Regions from separate parts of the Homo sapiens genome. Here region 2 is linked to region 1. The links come from fine-mapping of genetic effects on gene expression. A gene starts in region 1. The other region holds a variant in brackets. All regions are shown on one strand. Distances are between the middles of the regions.

Region 1 (8,504 bases):
TGCAGGCGTCCACCCAACCTCAGAGGAAGTATTCACTGGAGAAAGTGACTAGAGACTCCAACCTCTGGGACAAGGGGGCTGAAGACAGGCAAGTTAATTATGAGGCTACCAGTCACAGTGGGGTTCCTGATACCCCCTCATCCCCACTAAGCCTCGAATAATGCTGGACACAGAGAACGTAAGCCCACCCAGCAGACATGTGTTTCCTCTGCAGAAACTCTGGAAGTCGCCTAGGTGCTCACCCTGGGAGCCCTCCACCCATCCCCCAACTGTGGAGCCCCATCAATAGACTAACCCCCAACACCAGGGGTCTCATGTCAAGGGGAGCCTCCCGCAGGAAGACATAACCCAGTGAAGAGGCAGTGGCCTACAGAGTAGGGCACAGGGAGGGCACCCTCCTTGGAACCTCCCAGACAACAGGCCATTTGGGGACACTGTACTGAAAGGACCCTGGCCCTCAGTTGATTCTAAGATGCTGTGGCTTCTCCAGGCAGCACGGCTCTGATTCCTGAGGCCTGTGCATGGTTTTGTGTGGCTGCGGCACCTTTGCCTTCCTGTGACCAGAGGGCTCTCTAGCCGCAGCACCAAGGTCCCTGACATGGCCCTGGCATCACCTAAAGGCCACAGGTTTTTCCTTTCTTTTGGAACAGACAGTGGTCTTCCCAGTTCCTTTCAGAGTCCTAGTATAACAGCCTGCTTCTCTCCTTGCTGGCCTGTCAGTGCCCTCTCCCGTGGGGCTCTTGTCCCCGTGCCCCGCCTGCCCCTGGGTCCTGGCTCCACTGTGTTGCCTGCCCAGCCCCTCGTGGGCATCTCACCTGGGCTGACTCAACTCTGAGGAAGCCAGGCCGGGTGCTCCTCCCTGCTCCATCCCAATCCCACACCAAGGCGATGGCCTTGCCTGGGCCCCATGCCATGCACCCTGGGCCTCCTCTGCAGGGCTCCAGCTCCAGCCTCAGTCCTAGCAGTAAAGATGGTGTTAGGTGGTTTCTGGGTGCCTCAGCTCCTGGCAGGCCCTCAAACCATGGCTATGGTGTATTCTCCTTCCCAGCACCGCTCCTGGCACAGTACCACAGAGCAATGCACACAGCCCTCTGAGCCTGCATGGCACCCGCCAGGGCTGAGAGTGCACCTGATGCAGCAGCAGAGCCCTGGTCGGCAGGAATGCTACCCAGTAAGTGGACTACAGCAGCCCTTGCCAGGGAGGAGGTGTGAGGAATGCCAAGCCCTGCAGACAGAGGCTTCTCACCCCCATGCCCTGGGGCCCTACACGGACAGCGGGCCAGGAGCTCAAATAGCTGCTGAAACAGACACTCATTTATTTCCCCAGAAGGAGGCAGAATGGGGTCCTTGGGGAGTCTCTGTCCCAGCCCGGACAGGCAGATCTCACTTCCAGAAGAGCACATTCCAGAAAAGCAGCCAGCAGGGGTAGAGGCCCAGGGACAGCAGTGGGAAGAGCAGGGCGCCGTAGGTGTGGTGCTCCAGCACACCCTGGGCTAGCGCTGCCAGGAAGAGCTGCCAGCCCTCGGCCAGTGACAGTGGCGCCTCCTGCAGCTCCCGCCACAGGAACAGGCTGCCAAGGAGCGTGGCTGCCGGGCTGGTCAGCACCAGCAGGGCAGCATAGAGGGTCCTGGGTGGAGAAGCAACATCAAGGTAGGCTCCATGGTGGGGGCATGGGCACCAGGTTGGGGGAAAGGGCTACTGAATGAGGGTGCGGTCTGTGATGAGGGCACAGGCATTGGGGGAAGTGGGGCTGATCCATACATACCGGGGCCCATGAGGCTTGGCAAGCGCAGCAGTGGGCACCATGGTGGTGGCCAGCAGGAAGCCCAGTGAGAAGTTGGTGAGGGCGATGCAGCCCAGCTGCAGTGCTAGGTAGATCAGGGCTACCAGCTTCAGTGCCATCCAGCCCCTGTCTGGGGCCTGTGTGCTTACCACCCTGTAAGACAAAGGACTCAGAGGCAACCCACAAGCTGTCTGCATGTCCAGGGGACCTCTACCCCTGCCCCCAACAACCAGCCCAGCCTCTTACCGGTGGGTATTGTGGGGCAGGGCCAGGCCAGCTGCATAAATCGCCAGCAGTGTCAGCACCACAGCCTCAGCCTCTGCCACTGGGAAGTGCTGGGTGGCAACGTGTTGGCCCAGCACTGGCAGGACATAGAGGGCCAGTCCCATGGCCTGTGAGATCAGCAGAGGTGCCACGAGCGAGGCCAGCCCCACACCCTGCAGGGCACACAGGCTCTTGGAGATGGACCCTGGGGCCAGGGGATCCCCAAAGACCACCACCATCCCACCAGCTGAGGCTAAGTTGCAACACTAAACACCAGTCAGACCCCAGAAGCCCATTCCAACAACAGAAGGGGGTGCCATCACCTGTGATGGGGGAAGGGGTACACTGGGGCCAGGGGCACCCCCGGGCTCCTCAAGGCCCATTCCAGCCTCATGCAGCTGCATCCACAGTTCCAGAGCGTAGCCCAATCAAGGACCCCAACAAGAGGTGTAACGGGATCTGCCCAGAGGGGGACCCAGGGCTCACCCCCGTACCCCACCCCCCATCAGGATGGAAGACTCTCCCCAGCCTAGAGTTGAGGAGACTGGAGGCTGGTCACAGGTAGATGGCAAGGGGCAGAGGATATCTTGAGACCAAGGACCAGGAGCAAGAAGCCGACAGCGGGCATGTAGAGGCCGATGGAGACGAAGCGGGAGAGGCCGGGGAGCAAGTAGAGGAAGAAGGACTGGTGCAGGCGCTCCAGGAGGTGGTTGAGCTTGCGGAACATGCCCTCCAAAGCCCTGTCAGGTGTGGGGCAGGTTCACGGCTGGCCAGAGCCACCAGGCCATCCCCCACTCCGCTCCAGCTAGACCCCATCCTGGGCATGGAAAGGGGGGACCAGAGACTACTTACTTGCCCACTGCCACCAGGTCATACTTGTACTGGCGGAAGCTATTGATGCCACGCAGGGTTAGGGCCTCCACACGGTAGCGCAGGAAGAGGCCATGGGAGCCGTGGGGGCGGCCGGAGGCCTGCCGCAGAACCATGAGCAGCAGTGTCTGCAGGCCCTGCAGCGGTCCATCCAATGATGTCCAGTCCTCGGGCTGCAGCTTTAGAGGTGCAGGACAGGATGAGACAGCCCCTCCCACAGACCCTGTGCCCTTCAGCCCTCAGGCAGGCAGGCAGCCCCACCTTGCCCTGAAGCGTGCACAACAGGCCCCCTTTCTGGCAGAAGGTCTGGAAGAGATTGAGCAGGTCAAGGTTGGGCAGCTGCCCGTTAAGCCCCTCCACGGCCACATCGAGGCTGGTGACCACATCACTGCTCAGCTCCAGGGCCACGGCTGCCTGAATGGCCCCAGCTCGGCCCTGCAGGGGAGACGACTGCATGCCTGTAGGAGCAAGTGAATGAGTGCTAATGGAGGACGTGGTGAGGACAGTGACCCTGAGAGGGGGACCAGGGCAGGCAGGACAAGAGAACCTACCAGTGACATTGACATCGTGGTAGGCTTCAAGCCAAGCCTCAGTGCCCAGAAGGTCATGTTCTGTTACCAGGAAGACGATATCTTTGGCCCAATAAATCTGCCCTGGAGGCCAGAAGCAGGATCAGCAGGGTCTGGGGCACTGACCAAACCCCTCCACGGCCAGCAGCCCTGAGACTCACCCCGGAAGTGGGCAGCCAGTGCCAGCAGCAGCCCCACAGCCTGGCTGTTGGTAGAGTCAGAGCCACAGGGCACGGTGAGCACAAGCGACTCGGTGCTGGCAGCACGCGGGGCCCGCAGGATGCCGTACACGTTGGTGCCCGACACCATCTGTATGCAGCATCGGTGGGGGGAGCCTCAGTGTAACTTTGTGGTAGGGGGCTGAAGGGCCCCCCACAACTTTCCTAGCCCTCCAGTGCCCACCAGGGATTTCCCTCCCACTGAGCTTCCTGGCCCCATGACACCCCCGCAAGGTGATACCCAGCCCAGACCCCTCCCTCCAAGGTGCTTTCTGGGCCCAGGCACACCCCACTCCCCCAGTACATAGCGCTCGTGGGTCTCATCTGGGAAGGGCAGTTTCCGGGAGAAACTCTGCGTGTAGACCTCCAGCCCTACTGACCGCATCGTCCGTTCAAGCCAGGCCACTGGCAGAGCCCTGCAGACACGAAGGGAGCCTCTGAGCAGAGCTCCCCGGCCTTAGCCACCACTGCTCGCCCCATACGCCCTGCTCTGCCGCTCACCCCGACTTCTTGCGGTGGGCGGCGAAGTCCCGGGCAAAAGCCCGGGCACGGTCTCCGCCCGCAAACTGCTCCTCCACCATGGTGGAGCCCATGGCGTTCTCCGACATGTAAGTGCGCTGGGTCAGCGGCGGGAAAACCAGCGCCAAGAACCAGGCGATGCCCGCCACGTAGCTCAGCACGCTGTGAGAGAGGACGGAGGGGCACCGGAGCGTCAGCGGGTCCTCAGACGCCGACCCGAGGCCACAACCTCCGCACCCGGGGTCGATCGCGCGGGTCTGGGAGACCTAAACCCGGAGTCCTGCATCGGGACGCCGGACCCGAGCCCTAAGCCTGGGCCTGATACCCTCAGTGCTTCCAGAGGGCAGGAGCGGAAGGGCGCGAGCAGCCGGAGGGGCGCGAGCAGCTGGAGCGGCCCCGGCCCTCGATGGGGACCGCGCATGGGGCCGCCGGCGCGAGCCCAGGGCCCTCGGGTCCCCGCCTCCCCGGGCCCTGTCCTCACCACAACGGCGCGTTGAGGCGCAGCACTAGGCGGGCGAGCGCGCGCCGGCGAACCGGGTCCGACAGGAGGCCCATGGCGGGGCAGGGCGGCGCGGCTACGGACCCTCTCCCGCCTCCAACTACCGCCGCGGTGCCCACAGGCTGCTCCTGTCAGACCCGGGGACCCGCGCTCGCCCGCACTTCCGGTCCCAGAGACGCTCGCGACGGCGCGCATGTCCAGAGCAGAGGGCGCGCCCCTAACACTGTGTGCTGCCGGCGCGCAAGCGCAGAGCCGCGGCCGGCTGGAGGGTGGGCGGTGCCGGTGAGGCCGGCAGGACCTGAGCGGGTTTGGGAGTCCGCTAGGCGCTGCCCCCACTAGAGTCGGACTCGCAGTGCACCCCCCGGGAGGGAGGCAGGTAGCCCTACAGCCGGAGGACAGCAGAGATGCCCGACAGCAGGCCGAGCTGGTCGGGGGCTGCGAGATAGCGCCGGCTGGAAGGCCCGCAGGAGTCAGAGGTGATGAGCCGGGCAGGTGGGTGGAAAGCCGGCGGCGGTCAGAGAATGGATGCCAAGCGAGACTGCCAATGACTCAGGACGTCCCAGTGGAGTCACAGCGTGAGCCCAGCACCGAGGTTTTCAGAGTCAGATGACTGCAGAGAAGATGCTGATGGCACTACTGGCCAAAACGGGCTTCACTGGAGCTGGGGTGTGTGCATTATAAAGTGGGGGATCATACTGTCACTGTCCGGGCCAGGAGATCCGTGGAATATTAGGGGAGAAGCAGTCCCAGGGTCCAGACTGCAGGGACTGGTAGTCGGGGCTCGGTGGGCCAGAGGTGAATGAAGGGGGAGTTTGCTCAAGAGGGTGCACTTTGGGAAGGTGAGGTGGGTGGATCCTTTGAGATCAGCCTGGACAACGAAATGAGACCCAGTCTGTACACACAAAAAAATTCCTTTTAAATTAGCCAGGTGAGTGGGGCATGCCTGTAGTCTCAGCTCAGGAGGCTAAAGTGGGAGGATCACTTGAGCCTGGGAGATCCAGACTGCAGTGAGCCGTGATCACACCACTGCACTCCAGCCTGAGCACAGAGCAAGACCATGTCTCAACAAACAAAATAGTGGTGGGCAGAGAGAAGGGTCAAAGCTGAAGACTCCATGTGAGAACAAGTTTTTTTTTGTTTTTTTTTTGAGACAGAGTCTTGCTCTGTCACCCAGGCTGGAGTGCAGTGGTGTAATCTTGGCTCACTGCAACCTTCAACTCCTGGTTCAAGTGATTCTCCTGCCCCAGCCTCCCTAGTAGCTGGGATTACAGGTGCCTGCCACCACACTAATTTTTGTGTCTTTAATAGAGATGGGGTTTTACCACATTGGCCAGGCTGGTCTCGAACTCCTGACCTCAAGTGATCCATGAGAACAGGTAATTTTTGTACTTTTATTTTTTTTTAGATGGAGTCTTGCTCTGTCGCCCAGGCTGGAGTGCAGTGGCACAATCTCGGCTCACTGCAACCTCCGCCTCCCAGGTTCAAGAGATTCTCCTGTCTCAGCCTCCTGAGTAGCTTGGATTACAGGCATGTGCCACCACTCCCAGCTAATTTTGTATTTTTAGTAGAGACGGGGTTTCGCCATGTTGGCCAGGCTGGTCTCAAACTCCTGACCTGAAGCAATCCGCCTGCCTCAGCCTCCCAAAGCTCTGGGATTACAGGCGTGAGCCACCATGCCTGGCTGTTGTACTTTCAGAGCCCAAGGTAAGCAGCAGGAAAAGCCCAGGGGGCTCCAAACCATAGTCCAGAGGTTGTGGGACATGGCCCCCACATCCCTAGGGTGGGTACCCAGAGCCAGCTGAGTTCTTCCTCAGCCCTTTGCTCAGGGCCCCCGATGTGCTGGAATAAGGGTAACAGATTCCTCAGTCTAATGGCCTGGCTCATCTTGCCAGGCCCTGCCTCCTGCTCAGCTGCCTTGAGTCCTTACTGGGACATGCTGCTTTTTCCACCCAGGGCCTCCCCTACAGAAACCCCCTAATCCACTGTTCTCTTCAGGGTTTGAATCAGGCTACACAGAGATAGGCCGTTCATGTGTGGGCGAGGGTCCCTAATCATCCCCAGGAGCCAGCACCAGACCAGGCTCTGCCAGCCTTCACATGGCTCTGAAGTGCTGTTAGGTGATAACGTACAGTGAGGGGTGTGTGGGCAGAGGAGGGTTTTATTCTGGACATGGGTGGCTGGGTGGTCAGTCCCCCAGCAAGATAGAGGCCTCACGCACATGCTGCCGGACCACTCGATCTAAGAGGGTGTGCACATCTCGGGCAGCCTGGGCAGCAGCCTCCAACACCCGCTCCAGGTGGTCCTCGTGCAGCCGGGCATCCATCTCAAGCAGCGCAATCTGTCCTGAGGCTGGCAGCAGGGCCAGGGCCAGCTGGGGGCCACCAGCTGCTTCCTCCACATGGCTGAGGTCCGCCAGGGCTGTGCCGTCCACGAAGCCAGCTGAGCACGCACACACAAAGTCTCTCATGGGTATCCCGGCATCCAGCACTGCCAGCGTGGCTGCATTCACACAAGCTGCATAGGTCCCACCATCTGCCTGTAGCACCTGCAGGGAACCCAGGGTGTCAGTCTATCAGACTCCCTCCCCAACCCCATCACACCCTTCCCTCCCTGGATTGACGGCTGCAGCTGGCTCACCTGCACATAGATATCAATCTGGGAGCGTGGGTGCAGCTGTGTGAGGATGGCTGCTTCGAAAGTCTGGCGGAGCTGCAGGCCCATCTCACAGGACTTACGGTCCCCATGTGGCCGTCGCTTGCGCTCACCTGTGCTGAAGGTCGCTGAACTATATTGACAGTTCACTAGGGCCCTGTCCGGCAGGGCTCGAGCCCGGGAGCCCCGGATCTGGAAGAGGACAGACACATGAGCCAGGCCCACTCCTTCCAGCTCACACTCCACTGTCCTCTGTGGGTCTGCCTCTCCCTCCACTTTCAATGCCTCAGCAAGGGGCAACTGCGTTACCTCCAAAACAAAGCCCCCTGTTTTGCGCTCTCTGTCTTGCATGTGTCGCCCTCTGGCACCTTTTAATTGGCTTCCTTGTGTCCATCCTTGCCCCATTCCCTGCCAACCCAAGTTTACAAACATCAACGCTGCTTCTGTCTCACCTACACACTCAAATCCTAACTACCTTACAAAGGTTTCACATTACATATGAAATAAGATCCCAAATCATTTCCCTACTCTACAAAACCCTAAGTCCTCACCTCCCCGGGAACCCTCAACCTGATTTGGAGTTATCCCCTCTTTCCCCACCAGCAGTCTTTCTGCTCTGCATAAGTGCCTTGCTTGTTTTCACCACCGTGGTCTTCGCCCTTCTGGTTCCCTCCGCCTGGAAAGCAGAGCTCCCACACTCATGCGCTAAGCAAACACTCTTTCAATACCTTCGCTGGCCAGGCAGTTACAGCGCTGGAAGCACAGTAATGAAACCAGATAGTTTTATGTAAAGTTCCTTTCTTTAGGAAGCTTATGTTCCAGCGAGGAAACAAAGGGGAAAATGCTTAAGCAAAATAGGCATTTGAGATTGTAGGTGCACAAAACAAAGGGTTTATTGTAGGGCGAGAAGTACCGCGTGGATAATAAGGTCGTCTGGGAAGGAGTGACGTCGGAGTAGAGCTGAAAGGAGAGGGAGCGAGTGGGGGAGTGCCTAGCACGTTGAAGAGCCGCAAAGAGGAAGGAGGGCGCAGGGACAGAGGCCGATGAGAAAGGCAGGACCACCGCGCAGCACACTAAGGACTTGCGTTTACTCCGAGTGAGATGCGGTGCTGAGCATCGGCTGTGTAGAC
Region 2 (8,008 bases), 23 kb before region 1:
CTGGCGGCAGGGTTCAGGGTCAGGAACCGGAGCTGGGCGGTGGCTGGGCTTCACCCATGCTGCCCCCTCACCAGTGATGTGGTCCGTGGGGTCGTCCTGGGGCCGGTGGTCTAATCGCGGACTGTCGCCCAGGCCAAACTGCACCAGGCCGTAGGTAGCGCTGTCTGGGTCCTCAAAGCCCGCGGTGACGCGTCTGCCTAGCGCACAGAGCGCCACGGCCGGGTAGCAGCAGGAGAAGGTGCGCAGCAGGCTCAGGCTCTCTTCGGCATAGGGGAAGACGCGCCACATCTTCACCGTCAGGTCCCCACCTGTGGGCAGCGGAATCTGGCTGGGCCTTGTCGGAGGGGAGGGGGCTCTGTGGCGGCCTGGCCTTTGGCAGGGGAGCTACTGACCCGAAGACACAATGCTGTTCCAGGTGGATGCGATGGCGACAACCGGGCCCGGGCTGTGCGCCTCCGTTTGGAAGACAGTCTTCGACGAGAGCCACTCCAGCACCGACAGCGTGCCGTCCGTGTGCCCCACCACTGGCAGGTACCTGCGAGTGGGAAGAGCCTGTTGGCGCGGACCCTGCCGCTCCTTCCGCCCGCCAGACCCTCGCCGGCTCCCGCACCCACCGGTTCTTGTTCTTCCAGGCGCAGGCCACAGAGCTGCAGCGCAACTCGCCCCAGTGCTGGCGCACGATCTCCCAGGAGGAGAAGGCGCCTTCGAGATCCGTGAGGTGGCTGTACAGGTGCAGACAGCAAGGCTGCGGCGCAGGGGGCGGCGGCGGGCACACGCGGTGCAGCACGCTCATGGGGCAGCGCGCCGCGTTGGCGCGGACCAGGTGCCCAGCCCTGGTCAGCAGCCACAGCGCCTCGCGCGGCAGGCAGTAGGCCACGGCTGCCGCGCAGTCCTCCGGCTCCAGCAGCAGTGAGCTCACTATGCGCCCGGTGGCCGCCGACAGGAGGTAGACCGAGCCGTCGGCGCACGCGCACACGAGGCGCGTAGGCAGCGACTGGTGCGCAGGCGCGGGCAACGCGGGCGCCACCTGCACGTGGAGCACCTTGGCGGGCAGTTGCGCCAACGGCGAGTAGAGCTCGCGTACGCGCCACAGCTGCATGCTGCTCGCGCACAGGGACAGCACCGGCCAGCCCGGGCGCACCGGCGCCAGCAGACGGCCCACGCGCCGGGACAGCTTGTCCTGGCCCCAGAAGCCCAGCGCTACCTCGCCCACCTGCGCCGCCGCCTGCAGGTCCCAGGTGCGTAGCGTCCCGTCCTGCGAGGCCGACAACACCAGGGTCGTGTTCGGGAGCACAGTCATAGCCGTCACCGGGCCTGTGGGAGGGGTGCAGGTCACTCGGCCGACTGAAGGCAGGGGAGCCTTCAGCCTGTGTTGCAGTCAGCGCAGCAAGGCCTGGCCGGAGCTGCGGAGATGCTGGACAGCCTAGAGCGGCTGGAGGCAAAGGGCCGAGGCTCGGGGTGCAGAGAACTCAGAGCACCTGTGTGGCCCACGAACACCATCCGGATCTGCCAGTCAGCCTCCCACACCTTCACGGTGCTGTCCCGGGAAGCTGTCACCATTGCCTCTACTTCCTCGCAGTAAGCCAGGTCCGAGATGGTGCTACAGGTGGGGAATGGGAGAATCCCAATGGACTTAACATCGCCTTGTGTGTGAGGGCCGTGTGCCCCTACATGCCTGGCCCTCCCTAGGGGGATCCCCCTCACGTTTTGTGCAAATCCCGGCGCACATCTACGAGAGTCCAGGCATGCAGATCGAAGGTGAGCACGGCCGAGCCATAGGCCGCGAAGCAGCGCAGGACGTGGTGGGGAGGAACCGGCGCCACAGCCAGACGCATGAGCCTGCCTGTTGGGCTCGGGGGCGGGTGCAGTGCTGACCCTCGCAGCACCAGGCGGCGACCACCTGAACGGAACTGCCAGAGCGCCAGGCTGCTGTTCATCTCCGCAACGAGCAGCAGCCTGAGGTCGGGAACCGGCAGGCAGCAGGTGGGCGCCCAACCCGGGGCCCTGCCCACCCCCTGCTCGCTCAGCCACAGCAGGCTGAGGTTGGGCCTCAGAATTGCCAGCCCCGCGGGGCCCCAGCCTACAAAACGGCCCACGGCACCCAGCGGGCCCAGCACGGTCACCAGCCCCGTAAGCCGGACAGGCGCCAGCAGCGTCTCCTGTGCCCAGCCGTCTTCCTTGTGCAGGTGCAGGCGGCCCGCGCCGTCCAGCACCACGAAGCGTCCACCCACCGGGTCCTGCGCCACCGAGCGCAGCCCGGCTGCCACCTCCAGGCGGCGCAGTGGTTCCAGCCCATGCGTCAGGCGCGCCGCGCGCAGCTCGGCTCTCTTCTCCTGTGGGCCGGGGTGGGCGGGCCCGCAATCAAAGGTTGGGGCTACTCCGGCCTAGGGGACCCCTAAGGGAAGGCCCAGATCCGGAAAGAGGCCAGGAGGCGCAGGACAGGCACACCGCACCTTTTCCACGACTTCGTGGAGGCTGGTGCGCAGAAGCAGCCACAGCCGGCGGGCGCGGGCGCGCGGGGTCAGGCTTTGCCACTGTTGGCTGCTGGTCAAAAAGGGCAGGACCTGCGACGGCTCCGTGAAAGTCAACTCTGCGGGCAGGAACTGGAAGTTCTGCCACCTACAGCCTCAGGTCCTCGACCCTGACGGTTATGGGGAGCCCTCCTCCAGGGGCCCTGCCCTACCAGGGACTGCCCAGGGGAGTTTTGTTCCAGGGGACGGAACCCAAGCCCGAATGAGACCCACTTCCTAGCGGGATGCCCGGAGGGCGAGGCCAGGCCCCCTCACCATTCTTTTCGGTGAGCAGCCCAGGGTCTGGGACATCATAGCCATCCGCATCATACAGGTCCGAGTCCAGAACTAGGTTGTAGCCTTCTGCCTCCCACACCTCTGCCTCCATTTCAGCAACTGCGGTCCCAGAGCCCAACAGCTCCCAGGACTTAGCGGTCACGGCCCGCAGCGGCAGTTGCTAGGATACCAGATGCCGCCGGCCACTCCCACACCGCAGGCCCCACCCCCACACCGCATCAGGTCCACACTAAGTCACAGAAACTTTTATTGGAAAGAAACGAGCTGCAGCAAAGTGACACTCAGTGCACGCGGCCAAATGGGCGAGGTGGGGGTACAGGTGGGCACCGGGGCCGGCCCAAGACCAGAGCCGGTGACTGCTGGGGCCTGCTCGTGGGGCCTCCGGCCACAGACCCTTTGGGCTGGAGTGTGCAGGCCCAGTAGAAATACAAAAATAAACTCTGCGGTCCAGCTGTCCCT[G/T]CTGTGGCAGTTCATTTGGGCAGGGCAGTCGCTCCTCCCACCAGGCCCCCTGCTGACAAGTCCGGCCACAGCATGGGCAGCAGGAGTCTGAGGGGTGAGTGGGCATCCACAGGATGGAGCCAAAGGGCTAGGCAGGTATGGCCTTGGGCAGTGCCAGGACTGTGGCAGCGCCAGGGTCTGGCCAGCAGCTGGGGAGGCCCCAGGGGCCTCTCAGGTGGACAGGTCCAGGCATTGGTTGAAGCTGGATGAAGCTGGGGCCTCGGCTCCTCCTCATCAAATACAGATCACTGGGACCCTGGGCGGAGGTTGGCACACAGTGGGCCTTCAGGAGCCACCACTTAGACCAAGTAGAGGAGGCCCCCACCCTGTTGTACCCACTCCAGGCTTCAAGGACCCGGGTCATGGCCCCCATCACACACCTGTCCTCCTCCATGGTGCTGGTCTCCTCGGCCCCACTGCCCCCGCTTCTGCTTTCTTCCTCCACCTCCTCCTCCCCCAGCTCCATGTCCAGCTCGTTGCCTGCCTCTGAGGGTGTGTAGGTGGAGCCACTGAGGGGAGGCAGGGAAACCAGTTTCAGGACCCCTACCCAGGCCTGCTGCTGGCCCCAGGGAGGATGTTCAGGGAGGGCAAAGCTGGGTGGAGATGGCACAGCTGGGGAAGTTGTATCGGCCCAACAGGGAGGTGGGGGAGGAGGCGGGGGGTGCCCACCTGATGGAACGGCAGCTAAAGAAGACGATTCGCTTGAGCCGCTTGTTGTAGAAGAAGTAGTTGAAGGACCAGAGGCTACCATCCTCCCCGAAGGGATCTGAGTCCAAGTCTGGGTTATAGCTGGGGAGTATAGGGTGACAGGTGGTGTGAGGCGCCAAGTGCCCCACAAACCTGGAGGCCTGGAGGCCATCTGCAGGGATGCCGGCCCACCTGTAGATGTCACATTCAGCCAGGCAGATCTCCTCGTCCACCGCGTTCCACAGCTGTGGTTTCAGATCCTTGAAGTCCTCCCGCACAGCTGAGAACAGACTGCAGTTGACTGCATTCACCACCTAGGGCAGGTCACAGTCAGGGTGACAGGAGCCCAGGGCTACCCAAAGTGGGGAAGGACAGTGGGGTGGCTGTGGGTCCCTTCCCTCCACCTGACCCTCACCCAGCTAAGGCTGGGCTCCCGGCTGAACTCATGGCTGCGGGCTGTGCTGAAGTCATAGTCAGGCCTGAAGGACTCATTGAGCGTGGCAATCAGGTAGAAGAGGGTCTTGCGGCTGCACTTGTCACTGAGGGGGCCCTCCTCCTCACCGCCTTGGCTTTTGCTGAGTCTGCACAGACAGAACCATCAGCTGGGCCCATCACCTCCCCTCAACCCCCAGCCCCAGGTAGGCCCCACCATGGCTCACCTGCTGGGGCTCAGTCCTGAAGTCTGGGGTGGAGAAAGTGCCTCCAGCACGTGGGGCTGGCCCTCCTGGCAGAACTGCTTGAACATGTGTTTGTCGTCTCCTGCCATCTTACATGAGTAGCTCTCAATCCTATAGGATGCAGAGAGAACCATGAAGCATGCTTCCCCCAGGTTCCACTGAAGGGCGCGGCAGTGTGACCTCCGAGATGCCAGCCCCCCCAGCCTGCCTCACCTGCCAATGATGTGGGCATCTCCAGTCTCCACAGTCAGCTGTGAGTTGATGGCTTCAAAGCTCGAGTTCTCCAATAGCTTCATGTCTTTGGGGAAGGAGCTCCGTGCTCCAGAGGGGCTAGTATTGCCTGGGGAGTGAGAGACCAGACCATGGGTATCTATCTGGCCCCTTGGGGCCCTGCCTTCAGCCCTCCTACCCACTAAGTGGAGCCGCTAGGAACAAGCTGAGTCTGGCCTCTGTCCAGGCTGCACATCAGGAGCTCCCCTCTCTGCCCGGCCAGGAGAGGTGACAGAGATCCTGTTTTACCTGAGGGTGGTAAGTCCAGGCTCCAGGTCAGCCATACCCCCTGCAGAACACGCGAGTTCTGGGACTAGACTAGACCACCGGGGACCCTGCTCACCCTGGGGCTGCTGGCTGAGATTGTTGCTCAACATTCCCATTCCCCATCTCCACGCCCACTCCAAAAGAGCTCCAGCCACCATGGGGGTAACTCTTGAGTCCGCAACGGGACGTGACTCCTGCAGTCTCCCTCAGGCTGGCTGGGCTCCTCAGCCAAGGTAAGAGGCTGCATCCCGGTTAGGAACCAGGACACCTGGGACTCCGGGCCCTGCGGTCACCTGGGCGGGCGCTCTTTCGTTTTGGCTACTTTCTGGCCCGGGGAGAGGAAAACTACAGGTTCCTCCACTCTACCCGGAAAAATTGCCTAGTTTCTCCAGACGCCTAGGAGGGCGGTCCCTCGGCCCCGCTGGGGCGCTGCAGTCACCAGGCAGCGCCCGCCTGGGCCACGTCGGGCACCAGCCAAGCCGCGGTGGAACTACAAATCCCAGGAGGCAGCGCGCCGCGCGAGGCCTGCTGGGGGCTGTGGTTCCGGGTACGCAGACGGCGCGGGACGCAGGGCGGACACCCACCTGCCTGGCTGGGTTAGATCAGGCCGCGCCGGGCCGGGTCTGGCTGGGCTGGGTCGCTCCGCGTCGGTGCCGGTGCGCAGGCGGGGGCGGGCTCCGCGCAGCGCGGGCTCTTCAAGATCGGAGGGCGGCGCCGCGGCCTCCGCTCGGGCCGCACTGTATCCGGGGGAAGAAGCTCCGCGGCGACGTCCCGTTACTCCCGGCCCTGCCGGCCCATCCGGGCTGCCACCGCGACATAGCCTCGCCCCCTTCCACAGAGCCCGCTCTCGCGACCGACCTGCCGCCGACCGCCACAGAGCGCTCCGGCGAGTCAGCGAGCCGAGCGAGCGAGCGAGCGACCTCCGCCTCCCCCGGCCGGACAACAACAAGCGTCCGCCGGGCCCGGCCCCGCGCCTCTGAATGGCCCGCTCCAGTCTCCGAGATCGAGAGCTCGAATAGCCATCGGGTGCCGTACCCGCCACTCAGTTCTGCCTTCTACGTCTACTGGTTATGGAGCCTGTCTGTCACTCTTCTCGTCGTACTAACCCGCTTACCCCCGGCGTTCATTGGCCGTGGCCTCTCTAGCTCCGCCCCCTAGGGGGGTCGACCCCGTAACCAGTGAGGCGCGGGCCAACCTAGTGCGACGTGTGGGCGTGGCGGGGGCTGGGGTCTGCGGGCGAAGGTGGCAGCCCATTGGAGGTCCCGGGAGCGAAGTCCAGCTGCCGTTAGGCGCTGGGATAGTCGCACGCTGGATGCATCTACGTCCGCCGAGCCCCTGGGGCGAAGAGGCCGCGTCCGCCTTCAGTTGTGGCCGGTGCTTCGCCCCCTGACCCTTCGCCCCCAAAGACCAGCTCTAACGTGAGCGCCTCGGCCGCCCTGCCCCAGCCTCGTACACGCCGCCAGCCTCGCCCAGCCGGTGTCCGGAGACCCTCGGGCCGTGTCCATTTGTGGGCAAAGCCAGCGGGGCAGGCTTGGCCAGAGTGCACCACTCGGCGCCGTCCCAGGCCCGACGCTCTGGGCGCGCCCGGAACCCCAGGTTCGCGGCCCGTGTTTCCGACCGGCGGAGGGGGCTCAGCGGCCCGATCCCACGGAAGCGCGCTCGGAGGGGTGGGACCCGGCCGGACCGGAGATGGCGCCGCCAGCGGGCGGGGCGGCGGCGGCGGCCTCGGACTTGGGCTCCGCCGCAGTGCTCTTGGCTGTGCACGCCGCGGTGAGGCCGCTGGGCGCCGGGCCAGACGCCGAGGCACAGCTGCGGAGGCTGCAGCTGAGCGCGGACCCTGAGCGGCCTGGGCGCTTCCGGCTGGAGCTGCTGGGCGCGGGACCTGGGGCGGTGAGTGGGGGCGGAGGGCGCGCGGTCAGTCCTCTTGGCCCGGGCAGGGCACGGAGCCCAAAGTTAGGCCCCTCCGCTTGCCACCTGGGTGCCCTTAAGCAGTTATGTTTCTTTGCTTCTGTTTTCTCGTCCGTGAAATGGGGGTGACGCTCGGACCTACTGGGACCTACCTGGACCTACTTTACAGGGCTATTGTGAGGATTTGATGATAGGCGTACAGGGCTTAGGACCGTGTAAATGGTCTATAAATGTTACCTTGTATTTCTTTGCTCCTCGTGCGATGTAGGGCGGGGGGACGCCCTGAGCCTGGACTCTCCCTCTTCTCAGGTTAATTTGGAGTGGCCCCTGGAGTCAGTTTCCTACACCATCCGAGGCCCCACCCAGCACGAGCTACAGCCTCCACCAGGAGGGCCTGGAACCCTCAGCCTGCACTTCCTCAACCCTCAGGAAGCTCAGCGGTGGGCAGTCCTAGTCCGAGGTGCCACCGTGGAAGGACAGAATGGTCAGTGCCCTGTAATGGATACAATTACAATTTGGAATAGCCTTGGCCCCCCAGTCCTGGTTGGGGAAGTTGGATCCACCTTCCCCACTGCTGGATGTCTGGGAAGGCTTCCAGGAGGGAGTAGGTGGAGCCTGGAGTAGCTTGGAGTACTTGGAGTGGCTGCTGGAGTCAGTCTCCTACACCATCTGAGGCCCCAGCCAGCACAAGTTGCAGCCTCCACCAGGAAGCCCTGGAACCTCAGCCTGCACTTCCTTAACCCTCAGGAAGGATGAGAGGCAAGCATGAAGAGGCAGAGCAGGCAGGGTCAGGACCTGTGTGAGAAGACATCATCCCAAGAGCAGCAGGAGAGTGACAGGAGTGGGAGAGTGACAGACTCAGATACCTCCTGCTTAAGACAGAGTTCTGCAGTG

Evidence for each region.
Region 2: its variant is fine-mapped to the expression of GPAA1 in whole blood (TOPMed, PIP 0.91).

What each region holds. Positions count from the first base shown.
Region 1 is chr8:144,079,005-144,087,508 of GRCh38, reverse strand. It overlaps GPAA1 (glycosylphosphatidylinositol anchor attachment 1), which reads right to left and starts at 4,875. Exons shown (of 12, transcript NM_003801.4): 1 at 4,705-4,875; 2 at 4,206-4,385; 3 at 4,009-4,120; 4 at 3,648-3,795; 5 at 3,469-3,570; 6 at 3,179-3,375; 7 at 2,900-3,096; 8 at 2,634-2,787; 9 at 2,371-2,466; 10 at 2,030-2,220; 11 at 1,766-1,936; 12 at 1,293-1,627. The coding sequence starts at 4,778. The coding sequence ends at 1,384. It overlaps EXOSC4 (exosome component 4), which reads right to left. Exons shown (of 3, transcript NM_019037.3): 2 at 7,360-7,566; 3 at 6,861-7,267. The coding sequence ends at 6,908. It overlaps MIR6847 (microRNA 6847), which reads right to left and starts at 7,635; the gene lies at 7,567-7,635. LOC124902038 (a long non-coding RNA gene) reads left to right here and starts at 4,942. Exons shown (of 2, transcript XR_007061141.1): 1 at 4,942-5,388; 2 at 6,128-8,504. RefSeq lists a silencer at 4,544-4,793.
Region 2 is chr8:144,102,641-144,110,648 of GRCh38, reverse strand. SHARPIN (SHANK associated RH domain interactor) reads left to right here and starts at 6,876. Exons shown (of 9, transcript NM_030974.4): 1 at 6,876-7,096; 2 at 7,424-7,598. The coding sequence starts at 6,896. It overlaps MAF1 (MAF1 negative regulator of RNA polymerase III), which reads right to left and starts at 6,188. Exons shown (of 8, transcript NM_032272.5): 1 at 5,791-6,188; 2 at 4,883-5,009; 3 at 4,652-4,780; 4 at 4,408-4,573; 5 at 4,185-4,306; 6 at 3,975-4,094; 7 at 3,686-3,814; 8 at 3,038-3,561. The coding sequence starts at 4,965. The coding sequence ends at 3,540. It overlaps WDR97 (WD repeat domain 97), which reads right to left and starts at 2,910. Exons shown (of 24, transcript NM_001316309.2): 1 at 2,787-2,910; 2 at 2,454-2,590; 3 at 1,705-2,333; 4 at 1,479-1,600; 5 at 615-1,314; 6 at 393-535; 7 at 72-308. The coding sequence starts at 2,898. RefSeq lists enhancers at 1,437-1,967, 5,589-5,883, 6,635-6,684 and silencers at 5,745-5,984, 6,745-7,024, 7,035-7,134. The variant G/T (reference allele first, on the strand shown) is at 3,267.